2 linked regions of the Homo sapiens genome follow. The protein of the gene in region 1 purifies or fractionates together with the protein of each later gene. This does not show direct contact. Each region holds a gene or a part of one and is shown on either strand. Other genes may lie near its edges.

Region 1 (6,466 bases):
AGGTCTATGGAGGGGCTTCTTGAGCTGAGGCTTTTTTTTTGAGACGGAGTTTCGTTCTTGTTGCCCAGGTTGGAGTGCAATGGCATGGTCTTGGCTCACTGCAACATCTGGCTCCTGGGTTCAAGCGATTCTCCTGCCTTAGCCTCCTGAGTAGCTGGGATTACAGGTGCGCACCACCACATCCGGCTAATATTTTCGTATTTTTAATAGAGACGGGGCTTCACCATGTTGGCCAGGCTGGTTGTGAACTCCTGACCTCTGGTGATCTGCCCTCCTCAGCCACCCAAAGTGCCTGGATTACAGGTATGAGCCACTGTACCCAGTTTGTTTTGTTTTGTTTCAAATAGAGATGAAGTCTCGCTGTGTTGACCAGGGAACTGGGCTCAAGCAATCCTCTCATCTCAGCTTCCCAAAGAGCTAGGATTACAGGCGTGAGCTCCCGTGCGCTGCCGAGGCTGGTTCTTAACTCGGTCTTTTCCACACTTGCTGTATTTGAACATAGGCTTCATCAAGCCTTCCTCTTAGGCATGATCTCAGTGTCCTATGACATTCTCTTCCCATGCCGGTTCCCAGACATGGATTGTTTTCATTGCTGTCTTCTCAGTTGGCCATGGGCCTCCTGAGCATGCATCTGTTGTGAGGTTGTGAACATGAATGAACCGGCAGGCAGCTGCGGCTCTTCATCTCTACCTACACACATCACATCCTGGGACTGAGTGTTCCAAGCCGCTTTGTCACTAGGCATTTTATTTTGTGTCTCTCACTATTGGCCTGGCTTTTGAGTTTTTGTTTTACTCTTCATTTTACAGATGAATAACCTAGATCAGTTTTTTTTCTCTCAATGCTCCCTCTGTCTGTCCAGCCTTCTGCTAAGAGTTCTTGTTTATATTTCCTGTTTCCTTTGTAGTCACCAAAGGCTTCGTGTACAGCTCTTTCCTAAAGCCCTACAATCCTCGCCGCAGCCACTCCGATGCCTCCGTGGGTAGCCACTCCTCCACAGAGTCTGAGCACGGCAGCTCCTCCCCCAGGTTCCCACGCCAGAACAGCGGCAGCACCCTGACCTTCAACCCCAGCAGCATGGCTGTATCCTTTACCTCGGGGTCTTGCCAGAAGCAGCCTCAAGATGCATCTCCTCCGCCAAAAGAATGTGACCAAGGAACTCTCAGTGCATCCCTAAATCCGAGTAATTCAGAGAGTAGTCCTTCCAGATGCCCTTCAGACCCAGACTCCACCTCCCAGCCAAGGTCAGGGGACTCTGCAGATGTAGCTAGAGATGTAAAGCAACCCACTGCCACGCCGAGGAGCTACCGGAACTTCAGGCATCCAGAAATAGTTGGCTACTCCGTACCAGGACGAAATGGGCAAAGTCAAGACCTCGTCAAAGGATGTGCAAGAACAGCCCAGGCTCCGGAAGACAGAAGTACAGAGCCAGATGGCAGTGAGGCAGAAGGCAACCAGGTGAGTGCGTAAGAGGCCTGCCACTGTGGCACAGGCGGCAGCAGATGTGTTGTGGGTACCAGCGGGGGTGAGGCAGAAGTGGCTTGCCTGAGGCCTAGGGGTGATCTGAGATGAGCTCACAGACACACCTTTCAAGCACACAAGGAATCTCTGCCATCAGAGCCTTCTGAGCACCTTCCCCTGCTGATACTTCACAGGCTATTCCTGGACCCCTCTGTGTCACTGGGTGTTTAAAAGGTGCTATAATGACAACTTCATTATTCTTCCAGTTCACTAATTCTTCAGTTGTATAACATCCATTTAATCCACTTGTTTGGTTTTTGATTCAAGTAACCATACTTTATTTTTTTTTTGAGGAGTTTGTCACCCAGGATGGGGAATGCATGATCTCAGCTCACTGCAACCTCCACCTCTCAAGTTCAAGCAATTCTCATTTCTCATGCCTCAGCTTCCTGAGTAGCTGGGATTACAGGTGTACACCAACACACCCAGCTAATTTTTGTATTTTCAGTAGAGACAGTCTTCACCATGTTGGCCAGGCTGGTCTGGAACTGCTGGCCTCAAGTGATCCGCCCACCTCGGCCTCCCAAAGTGCTGGGATTACAGGCGTGAGCCATTGTGCCCAGCCCCAGTTTTTCCTATTCTCTTTGTAATGGCCTGTTCCCGTTTATGAGTTTGATTGTAGGCTTTGTATCTCAAACGTTTTGGGTTTTTTTTTTTTTTTTTGAGACAGAGTCTTGCTCTGTCGCCCAGGCTGGAGTGCAGTGGCGCAATCTCAGCTCACTGCAACCTCCGCCTCCCAGGTTCAAGCGATTCTCCTGCCTCAGCTTCCTGAGTAGCTGGGACTACTTTATTAGAGACAGGGTTTCCCTATGTTGGCCAGGATGGTCTCGATCTCCTGACCTCGCTGCCTGCCTTGGCCTCCCAATTTGCTGGGATTACAGGCGTGAGCCACCCACAGCTGGCCATATCTTGAACTAACCTGTATGCTTTAAAGCCATTTTCAGATTCACAGCTGCAGAGTCTTTGCTGCACCGTTTGTTGCCTTTGCTCGCTCTTCAGTGGAGCATCTTCCTGTGTTGACTGTCAGGTTTGTCTGCGAGCTCATCTCCAGAAGGATTTGCCCTCATGGGAAGGCCCAGTCGTGTCCTGGGTTGTAGAGGTGCTGCCTCTGCCACTGTCTGGATTCTAAGAGTCCAGTTTTTACCCACTTTCTCAGTTCAGGCTTCCCATAGCACATTCCTCAGTGCCATAGCCGAGCTTTGTGCATGCTCGTTTTTCTGGTGATTTCTCTTACTACCTACTTCCCGGGTCAAACATCCCCATTCTGGGCCTACCAAGCAGACAGTTATTATAGACACATCAAAGGGAAAAGAAGGACCTTTCTTAGATTGAGTTCGAGCAGGGAATGTAGTTGTAGTCTCAGCTCCAGTCCCTGACCAGGTCCTAAAGCTCCAGCCCTTGGGGCACGTGTCCCTCCCTCTGGCCCCCATGGGCCTCATGGCTTCTCCTCCTCCCTGAGCTCCTCCCTTCCATGGGCATTAGATCATGAGATCTTTGTTTGTGGCATCTAAAGATCAACTTTTCTTTGAAGTTGGTTGTGGTTTTCTGGTTTTTCTTTTTCATAATTTGTGTTGGAGGTATGGAAGAGTATGCTCGTCTTCCACCCTTTAAAGCAATTCTAAAAGACTGAAAAGGTAGTTTTTTTAAAATGGAGTCTTGCTCTGTTGCCCAGGCTGGAGTGCAGTGGTGCAACCTCTGCCTGCTGGGTTCAGGCAATTCTCCTGCCACAACCTCTGGAGTAGCTGGGATCACAGGTGTTCACCATCATGCTTATTTTTCGTGTTTTTGGTAGAAATGGGGTTTCACACCATGTTGACCAGCTGGTCTGAAACTCCTGACCTCTAGTGATCTGCCCTCAGCCTCCCAAATTGGTGTTTGTTCCAAGACAGAGTCTCACTCTGTCGCCCAGGGTCTGGAGTCCAGTGGCGCGATCTTGGCTCACTGCAACCTCTGCATCCTGGGTTGGAGCAATTCTCCTGTCTCAGCCTCGTGAGTAGCTGGGATTAGAAGTGTGTGCCACCACGCCCGGCTAATTTTTGTATTTTTAGTAGAGGTGGGGTTTCACCATGTTGGCCAGGCTGGTCTTAAATTCCCAACTTCAGGTGATCCACCCATCTCAGCCTCCCAGAGTGCTGGGATTACAGGCATGAGCCACCGTGCCCGGCCAAATTGGTGTTTTCTTTTAATCATCCCTATTATGGTAGCCATCATCCGTATGTACCTATTTAAATTTATTTTAGTTAAAATTAAATAAGATTAAAAATTCAGTTCCTCTGTCTCACTGGCCATATTTCAGGGGCTCAGTAGCCACATGTGGGCATGTGGATGTGGAACCCTCCCCAACACCGCACGAAGCTGTTGGATGGCATTGCTCCCAGCAATTTCCCATTTTCTCTCTCTCCCTCACACAGGTCTATTTTGCTGTCTACACCTTCAAGGCACGAAACCCAAATGAGCTGAGCGTGTCAGCCAATCAGAAACTCAAGATCCTCGAGTTTAAAGATGTTACAGGAAATACAGAGTGGTGGTTAGCTGAGGTTAACGGGAAGAAGGGCTACGTTCCCTCCAATTATATCCGCAAAACCGAGTACACCTGAGCCCACGTTGCCTGCCACCCAGCCTTGCTGCCTTTGCTTTCAGTCCGCCGAGGGTTCTGGCGGCCCACCGAGAGGGCGCCTGCTCCTGAGACACAGGCCCTGTCTGCGTTGCTTAACCATGGCATGGTGGAGCACACCACAGATCTTGTTCTCCTCGATTGGGTTGTAAACCTTGATGCTCACTAGAATCTCTAGAATTTGAAATGGACCCTGGGGCTTTGCAAATGACTTAGTGACTATGAGAAGAGAGACAAGTCTTAGAGCTGGCTTTTGGAAAGGAGAAACTTGCAGTCAGAAGCCCAGTGTCCTATGTATGCAGGAAGCTGTGCTCTAGCAATAGACAGTGTTGGTAATGGTTGTGCTGTACGGCGTTTGGGGTGGCCCCATGTTCCATGCTCAGCTGACCGGATGCCAACTCAGATGAAAAGAATTCATGGCTCTGGGCACCCCGTGAGGCAGTGCTTGCACATGGCTGGGAGTTTGTCGGGATTGAACCAAACCTAGTGCTTCAAAGCTCCTGGGACACCTCCAGTGTCCAGCACACATTCTCATACATACTGCCCCTAATTTCTAAAGTCCCTAAAGCACTACATTCTGTAACCTTGTTTCTTTTACTCCATTCCCAGATTAGTTATGCAAAATTCAACTGCGTTCTACTTTTAGAAGTGTTTAGGGTCTTTATTTTCTGTTGACCCTTCATCTGAAAGATTCTCTTCCCTTGTTAGGTACAATCACTGCCCCCCCGCTTTTTTTTTTGAGATGGGGTCTTGCTATGTTGCCCAGGCTGGTCTTAAACGCCTGGGCTCAAGCAACCCTCCCGCCTCCCTGCTGAGATTACAGGTGTAAGCCACCATACCGCAACCTCAATGACACCTTTCTGATGGTCTTTACACAGTCTGTGATGTCTGGTGGCCCCCCTGCCCTGGACTCAATAATTGATAGATTTTCCTAGAGTAACAGTATGAGAGCTCCAGCCATTCCATTAAAAGTATTAGTTCTGCTTTGAGCTGAAACCAGTTGAGCCTAATGGAAGACTGGATGTCTTTCTTCTTCATCCAAGCACCCTAATGACTGTTTAGTTACATCCATAGATGCAGACAACATAACACCTGTGACTTACTTGAATTGGGATAAGCCATTCCAGAAGTAGCTTATCCTAGACTTGGAAATAAGATTTTTTTCACCACTAACTTCCATGCTTCAGAGATGACATTCAAAGCCAGATTCCCAAGTGCCTGATCATACCTCCCAGTCTCAGGAAGATATTTGCTTACCCCTTAGACCAAGAATCTTAAGATCTTCCCCAGCTATGAAGCCTATCTTGGAATGGGAAACCATGAAATTTGTCTTTTAAAAGAAAGGGAAGAAATAGCCTTACAGCCCCTGTTCCTCCAAGTGCACATTTAGCCTTAAAATCCTGGGAGTCGGGAGACACCGTGGAGTCCTAACATCCACAGTGTCTGCTGGTCGTGGTCAGAAGGCAGTAATGCAAGAGTCCTTTTGTGAAGAGTGTTTCTATGTAGAGATGTTTATATTTAAGTAGTTCTTTTATAAATAAAAGCATTTCTAATGGCCTTGGATGTTTTCTTGATTTCCATGTTTAAGCTGAACGGGTTTTTTTGTTTGTTTGTTTAAGCTGAACGTTTTTCCTGGGCTTCTGGGGAGGCCTTCTTGACAATGAGTGATGTCCAGATCTGGGAGAATGGGAGAGGCTAACTGAAGAAATGCAGGCCCAAAGTCATTCTGTCAAAGATTCCAACAATCTCTATATACTCAGGCCGAGTGTGGTGGCTCACACCTGTAATCCCACCAGCACTTTGGGAGGCCAAGGTGGGCGGATCACTTGAGGCCAAGAGTTTGAGACCAGCCTGGCCAACATGGTGAAACCCCATCCCTACTGAAAATACAAAAATTAGCCGGGCATGGTGCTGCATGCCAATAGTCCTGGCTAATCAAGTGGCTGAGAATTGCTTGAACCTGGGTGGCAGAGGTTGCAGTGAGCCAAGATCACACCACTGTACCCTAGCCCGGGCGATAGCAAGACCCTGTCTCAAAAAAAAAAAAAAAAAAAATCTCTGTATACTCAAAATATGTCCATGCTGCAGGTGACTGCCTCTATTTTCATCTTGTCCTGTGAAATTCTAACGAAACAGAAGAGCTGGGATCTCTAGGGGATAAGTATTTCCCTGATATTGCAGATGTGGACACTGATACACAAGGTTATCTAACAAGGTCACGGAGCAGCAGCTCAGGCAGTTGGGGGCAGGGAAGGAAGTGGCAGGGCTAGTGGCAGAGGTGGGATTGAGGACAGTATGGTGGGTGACAGTAAAGCGATCACCCAGTGTTGT
Region 2 (7,595 bases), on another chromosome or scaffold:
TTTTGTAACTGAATTTTGACATTGGTTTGGGGTGTCCTCACATATGAATTCTGGTTTTCTCTCCCTTTTTAAAAATCTGTACATCACCTCAGGCATGAGTTGTGAGTATTTTATATTTTATGTCAACCATAGTAGTCTATCGTATATTATGATGTACTTGGATTTGTTAGGAAAATCTCTGCAAAGGGCTGGTCTGTGATCTTAACAGTCCTGGCATGTGGCCATTTTAGCATTCTGCTTTATAACTTAAATATCATGAAGGGGTACCATAGGTAAATTAGGTTTGTACAACTTCAGATAACTTAATATAAAACTCAGAAAAATTAGCTTGCTGTCGAAATGTATGCCAGCAGCATCAGAGTTGTAGGCCTGGAGCCTAATTAATGCATGAGTATAGAGTTGTTCCTTCCAGACAGCGGTAAATAACGAGCAGCGTGATGACACTGGAGTGGGAAATGTTTGGCAGCTTTTCTAGCCGCTTCCATCTGAGTCTTTAAATGGATTCAGCGCCTCTTAAAAAATCAAAGGAAAGCCCAGGACTTAGAATCAGCACACTTAGGCACTAGCTTATAAAATATTCTGTTGTATAAAAAAAGAGAGAGAGTGCCTGTGTGCACATGCTGCCCTGTACCTAGCCACATGACTTCCAAAACCTGCTAATGCCTGATTTCCATTACGTGCTACTCCTCAAATGGCAGCGGCTTCTGAATATTACAGAGATGGTGTGCTGTTTGCTTTTCTCTTTTGTTGTAGCATAAAACTGTTCATTTTAGCTTAGTGACATTTGTCAAGAATAGCAACCTTTTTGCTTCCAAGGGACTTGAAGGAAGTTAAATTTAGATGCTTTCCTCTCTTCTTATTTTGTGGAGGTATTTCCTGTTCAGTAGCAAATCAGTTATAGAATATATTAGCATTGTTATATTTTAAACTAATGACTAATCATTTCAGCTTTATTCATACTGTTGCATTTTATATTTCACAGGGAGCAATAGAAAAAGTGAAAGAAAGTGACAAACTAGTTGCAACAAGTAAAATCACCCTACAAGACAAACAGAACATGGTGAAGAGAGTCAGCATCATGTCTTACGCGTTGCAAGGTAAGATGAAAGGGTCCTTATGAGGTGCTGGTGGAAGTTTTTTTTTCCCCAGCAAAGTTTCCCTTGATAGAGAGAAATCCAGATGTGAGCAGCAGTTAAGTAAGTGAGACCTTTTAAGCCCCTCGTTTGCAGGATCCCGGTGCTGATGAAAATCTGTAATATTTATTTAATTTTTCACCTGTCCACCTTATCTGGCTATAGATGACAGCTTGATTAAAACTGTACATTTTATTATTTCTGAGAGACATTTAAGATTCCTTTTGTAATCTGTGGTATCATAATGCTCTATTAAATGCCAGAGCCCAGCTTTTAGCAGTCTGTAACCTGCGTGCCTTGGGATCATGGAATGTGAAGGGGTTTGGGTGTGTCATTTTAGGCACAATTTTTTTGTGTCAAGAAAAAAAAAAGATGAATTTCTATAGGTTTGAGTGTTTTTGAGCAGATGAGGGCAGCAAGTGGATTTTTCCTGTTGGCGGATGGGTGGATGGCACTTGGATGGGCAGAGAATGGAGAGCGTGTTCTGTTAGGAACAAAAGCCACAAAATTGTGGTGCTAGATTGTGTCATGGGCATGAAAGAGTAAAACATACTTAGAGGTTATTGGGAAATAAATTTTGATTGTGAAGGAACTTGAAAGCTCTAGACTTGATGCAGGCATTAAGAAGCCATTAAAAGGGAGTAAAAAAAAATCAATCCTCAAGGGAGAAGGATTTGCTGGTTATGGAGGGGAGATTGGAAGATGCAGACACTGTCCAAGAGCCCAGCCAGAAGACCATCTCACTGTTGTAGTCTGAGCTTTGAGGGCCTAAAGATGTGGTACTGGGGAGAAGAGAATGAAGCACATTTGCAGGCTTTTCCAAGGAACAGCTTTCAAGACTGGGGCATTCATGGGAGAAAGAGAAGGATGAGGGAGGTGTCCAGAGCCAGGCCACTACGGCAAAAACGAGGAACCCTGATTGAAGTTTCGGGTTTTGAAGGGTTTGAAATGGGGAGTTTGGTTTTGAACTTGTGTTTGAGGTTATCCAAATTGAGAAATACAAAGCTTTGTATAACTTCAAGTAACTGAATGTAAAATGTAGAACAGTTTGCATGTCATGGGAATCTGTGCAGCCGCTGGCTTTCTCAGCCTGGAGGGTTTGGGAGAAGGCGGCATAGGAGGCATCCGAGGGAGGCAATGAGGTCCTCTGATGACGAAGACTCCTCTAGAGTTGGGGGCAGGGGCAGGGGGGACAGAGAAAGAAGGAATCCATGTATTCAGCAAACATGAAGAAAGTTGTCCCTCAGCATCCAGTCCTCCTGCCCTGTGAGAGGTTGAGTTCTGACAGCGTCGCTGGTGCTCAGGGGCAGCAAGGCTTCCCGTACTGAAGAAGGGTCTCCCGCTGTCCCACACGCTGCCCAGCCTTTCACCAGAAACCTGCTGAAGCAATTGCTGTGCAGGAGGGAGCGGGGCAGGGACCCCAGCTGCCTGCTAGGTCCAGTGCAGACACACCAGAGGCTTTGAACTGCAGTCATCTGTAACAAATATGACCAAGTATTTTCTATTTGATCGATTCTGTTAGAGTAATAGGCTGCATTTGGGTGATTTATCTGTATTGGATTTTATAGTTTTGAATATGCAAGACAGTGAAAGTCATTCATTTACTGGAAAGTAATGTTTGTCATTAGCTTGTTTTGTTTTGTTTGTTTTGTTTGAGACAGTCTCGCTCTGTCACCCAGGCTGGAGTACAGTGGTGCAATCCCGGCTCACTGCAACCTCCATCTCCTGAGTTCAAGCAATTCTCCTGCCTCGGCCTCCCAAGTAGCTGGGATTACAGGCACCTGTTGCCATGCCCGGCTAATTTTTGTATTCTTAGTAGAGATGGGGTTTTGCCATGCTGGCCAGGCTGGTCTTGAACTCCTGACCTCAGGTGATCCACCCACCTCACCTCCCAGAGTGCTGGGATTACAGGTGTGAGCCACTGCGCCCAGCTCAACTTGTTTTTCTAACCTCTTAGTAAAGTGATTTACCAAGAACTGACAACAGCAGCCAACCAGATTAGGTCAGGTTGATGATTAATTGTAACTGAGCAGAGAAACCAGGTGTTGTCATTTGAAAACTTGAGGGAAAACTGATTGATGTTCTGATTTGGGTTGTAGCTGAGATGAATCACTTTCACAGTAACCGGATCTATGATTACAACAGTGTCATCCGCCTGTACCTGGAGCAGCAAGTGCAATTTTACGAAACGGTGAGTGGGCGTCCACGTGCCTTTCGCATGTGCTTGAGGAGAGGGTTCCTGGTAAACCACTTTGACCATGTAAAGTTAATCTGTTTGTATTCTTTAATCCTAAGTAATAAACCAAAGGAGCCTAAATTTTGGACAGGATTTTTTTAATCTCCTAATTCCATCTGCCCTTTGCTTTTTGGATAACACTGGGTTAAAAAAGATTTTCTTCTGAAGCAGGGGTCTTGGATGCTAGTTGCAAGGCCCCAAGAAGTTCCTTATTGTGCAGCTCCTTCCCCCCGTCACAGCCTCTCTGTGCCTCTGTGCACCAGGAACGGTGCTGAATGAGATGAGGTCACCCAGCCGTCCCTGGGACTCCGTTGGCAGCTGGAACAGGAGCCTGGCACCACACAGGAAACCAAAGGCAGCCTTTGCTTTTTGTGAATGAGGTTTTCACAGTGCGCCATGGAAATCGCAGAGAGAAAACCAAAAAAGCGAGATGTGGGATGGTTTTATTCACAAAACAATAACGAAAACTTAAATTTTTCTTACCTCTGCTTAGTAATTTTGTTGTTTACCAGAGTCTATAGAAAACAAAAATCTAGTAGCATGTCTCCCTCAGACACCTGCAGGTAAGGTCTGTAATGTAGAATCCAGCCTCCGCTGGCGGCCTTGCTGCCTACCCAGCTCCCCTCTGGCCATGGGATCTAAGCCATGTTCATGGGGAGTGGTGAGCAAGCCCTCTGCTCAGCCATACTGGTGGCATCTGCGAGCTGGACACTGCTGAAAACGCCTGTCTCCAGCAGCCAGTTCTTAAAGGAGAACTGTGCTTGATGTACCTAATGCATATTTGTGAATTGTGTCTTGGACAGTTGGTTTGGGAGACTAACTTACGGGAGGAACTCACCTAAGCCCTGTCCTCCCTTACAGGACGTGGGCCCTATGCTCTTTAAATGCACACTTTTCCCGTCAGTTGGTGCCATTGTGGATTTGCCTTTCATTGTATATTAGAATATAACAGATTACATTTGTCTGTGTGAGAAAATAATGCAAGGGCAACTCTCAAAATTTTGATAGTGTTGATTTATTGATTTTCAAGTCCAGGTATGGTATAGTGACATTGTAATTCAGAATAGAAAACCATGTATTTCATCACTGTCTTTGCATAAACCTAAGTAGCTGATATAACATTGTTAGGTTTTAGATCTAAGTTTTATGGCAAAGTAACCCTTAAGTTACTAAAATTTGTGTATGTGTTCATGGAGCAGACATATATTGAGTGTTTCTTATATACCAAGCCCTCGTGCTGGATGTTTAGCATCCAGGGATGGATAAGACAGCTGTGCCTTCAAGGAGCAAGAGGCCCTGGCGCAGAGACCACTGCAGCGCCTCGTTAGCTTCACAGGCAGGCTCGTGCTGTCTGCACACTCAGCAGTGACAGCAGGGTGTGGCCAGGGCGACACAACCTTCAGGGGATTCTGGAAGCTCATACTCCTCCAGGAAAGAGGGGGCTCTAGGCAAACATGAAGGCCTGAGCCCCCAGCTCATCTGAGGAAAAGCAGGTGGTCTGGAAGCGCCGCTAGGGCAGAGGTGGGGAGCATGTGTAGACGCCTCCCGGCGGGAAGGGACCACCAGGGCCAGCTCGGGCCCCAGCGCTGCCGGTGTCATTCGGGGTTAAGGTCTGTCCAGCAGCAACGCGGGGCAGGGCTGGTGCCAAAAAGACCAGTTAAAGAATTGGAATTTGTGTCATGTTTAACTTGTTGGAGTTGTGAATAAAGAACACTGTGAGGTCGTAATGGGAGTGATATCTCAACGTTGTTTTGTTTTGCTTTCTTGTCAGATTGCAGAAAAGCTGAGGCAGGCCCTCAGCCGCTTTCCAGTGATGTAGGACAGAACGGGCCTTGAAGAGAATGCCGCGTGCTTTCTCCTGACTTGGGGCAATGCAATTCAAAACTTTTTTTCCCCTATTATTCAGAAAAAAAAGGAAACAAAACCAAAAAGAAAGAGTTGCAAAAAACTGCATTTATTTTATTAGCCACCCTAAATGCGTCAGTTATTTAGGGATGGTCTTTTGTTCATTTCCGCATCCATTATTTAAACCAGTGGAAATTGTCTCTATTTTTGGAAAGTACTTAAAAGTTACCAGAATTTTCAATGGAAAATGAGGGGTTTCTCCCCACTGATATTTTACATAGAGTCATAATTTATATGTCTTATAAATTATAAGTCTTATATAATTTATAAGTCTCCCACAATCTTCCAGTTCTTACCCAGTGTCAGATAATTAATTACTAATTACTTTCTTAAAAACATGAACTATGCCAGAATAAAAAATATCTATGTTTGTATATTTTTATAACTCCTTTCAGTCCTCTGGGGCTCCTGTCATTGAGGGAAGTCGTTACGCCTTTCACTGCCACAGTTACAGCTCAAGTGCTTACACTTCAAGAGGGAGGACGCTGGGGGCCCCTGGGGCTGCTAGTGCCATCGTGGTGTGTGGCAGGTGGGCCATCCCATGTCCCTCCAGGGGGACCCCACAGCCTGGCAGATGAGCAGATACCCCTGGCCACCCATGTCCTCAGCGACATTTCTGATGTGCTGCTCTTATGTGAGGACCAGTGCTTTCTCTCTTTGCACTTCCTTCCTAATCTTGGTTAAGGCATGTTTTATGCCATGAAGAATACATTAGAAGAATTGAGGGACTTTGTAGAGAATTTTGTGGCTTTGGTCCAACGGGTGAGTGGCTGTGCGGAGGCCTGTGTTCGGGAGGGCCTGGGAGAAGGAGGGCACCCAGCACCCCGGCGTCTCTGGCCCTTTCTTATTCTTTGGCTCCTCATCCACCGTGATGAGAAGCGCTGCTGTGGCCACGGCACACTGCTTGGCTTGGGTGGCGGGTTCATGGCCAGTTGGTGTCATCAGCAAAGAGAAAAAGCACAGGTTAGCTCCCCATTAGATGGAAAAGTGTAGGGACTGAGAAGGGCTGCAGCCTCAGCAGTGTACAGAGTCCCCGGCGCTCTGAGGTTGGAGAGAAAGAACAGACCAGCGCCCTTCCCGACTACATCCGAAACTTCACACAGGGTGTTTCTGAGCACCAGCACTTCCAGCGCTTCACTTAACGGCATAAAGCAAAACAGGACCTTGGCACACCGTCAGCTCGAACTCAACACTGGCAGCCACCGTCTCACCCCTGCGGAGGAGCGCTCCCGTCTCCCACAGGTGCCTTACCGCGTTCCCTCCCGCTGCTTTCATTTTTCTGACCTAATAATTACGGGAAATGGAAAGTCTGGGCCAGCATCAATAAAATGACACCAAAAATAAGTAGATGAAATCAAATGAATATGAGAACATCTTGTTCTTCAATATCACGGGTTTTTGTTAATGTTTCATAAGTAATTCTCCCCACTTGATTTTTCTTCTATAAAATCCCATAGAACAATGTTTATGCTATAGCCATTTAATATATGTACAAATTGTAAAGAATATGTATAAATGTTTTACACGAATGTAAGAGCATGTAGAAGCCAACATATAAATAAATTGTTTAAAAAAACTGTACAGTAAATTCTCAAAGCACTTTTTCAAAACACTTTTTGGACTTTGTGTGTGATTTTTGTTGTTGTTGTTAAGTACTTTTTATTCCAGCTGCTGAAAATGGTCCAGGTAATGAATTCTTCCCCAAATCCTATTTCTTCTGACATGAATTCATCATTTCAGTTCCGTAGGTCAGTGTTGCGGTCCGGGAAGCGTATCATAACCACCTGGGAGTTGCCAAGAAGCAGACAGTCTCCCAGTGTCTGACTCTCGGATATTTGGATTTGACTGGTGTGAGGCAAAGTGAAAAAGGGATGGGGGAAATGGAGATGGCACGGGCTCCTCAGAGCGTGGTAGCCGACTGTGAGGAAAAGCAGAGGGAATGTGAAAGAAAATAAGAGAATCCACGGGATTTGATGCCTGGAAGATTCTCCTTCAAGTGGCAACATGGCATATATATCCTTCTCCGGGGAGTCACATGCACCATTTGGTTCTTAGATACGTTGATGTTTTGATTTTTAATGATTTGTATCAACCTGTAGGTACCACAGAAGAGCTGTAGTCATACAATCACATAACTTTTACAAATATAGTGGAAAAAAAGTCAGTATTTGGAGAGGAGAGATGAAGGCGTGGTGGAAGAAAAGGTCAGTCTCGTTGTCAAGCAAGTGACGTCAGTTGCCTCCCACCAGGAGCAGCAGTCCCGGGATGTCAACCCACTGCATGGTTTGTAGGTGTTGGGGTCACCAAGAAAGATGACTCAC

The links.
Region 2: the proteins of DNMBP (region 1) and SNX9 purify together in Homo sapiens (co-immunoprecipitation; 2 studies listed by BioGRID and IntAct, with this or other methods). This does not show direct contact.

What each region holds. Positions count from the first base shown.
Region 1 is NC_000010.11:99,874,803-99,881,268, reverse strand, and holds the end of DNMBP (dynamin-binding protein), read left to right. Parts: intron 1-68; exon of another isoform or gene 69-166; intron 167-907; coding exon 908-1,458; intron 1,459-3,932; coding exon 3,933-4,118; 3' UTR 4,119-5,692; downstream 5,693-6,466. UniProt on the Homo sapiens protein: Plays a critical role as a guanine nucleotide exchange factor (GEF) for CDC42 in several intracellular processes associated with the actin and microtubule cytoskeleton.
Region 2 is NC_000006.12:157,937,651-157,945,245, forward strand, and holds the end of SNX9 (sorting nexin-9), read left to right. Parts: intron 1-982; coding exon 983-1,097; intron 1,098-3,232; coding exon 3,233-3,324; intron 3,325-5,140; coding exon 5,141-5,188; 3' UTR 5,189-7,427; downstream 7,428-7,595. UniProt on the Homo sapiens protein: Involved in endocytosis and intracellular vesicle trafficking, both during interphase and at the end of mitosis. Required for efficient progress through mitosis and cytokinesis. Required for normal formation of the cleavage furrow at the end of mitosis.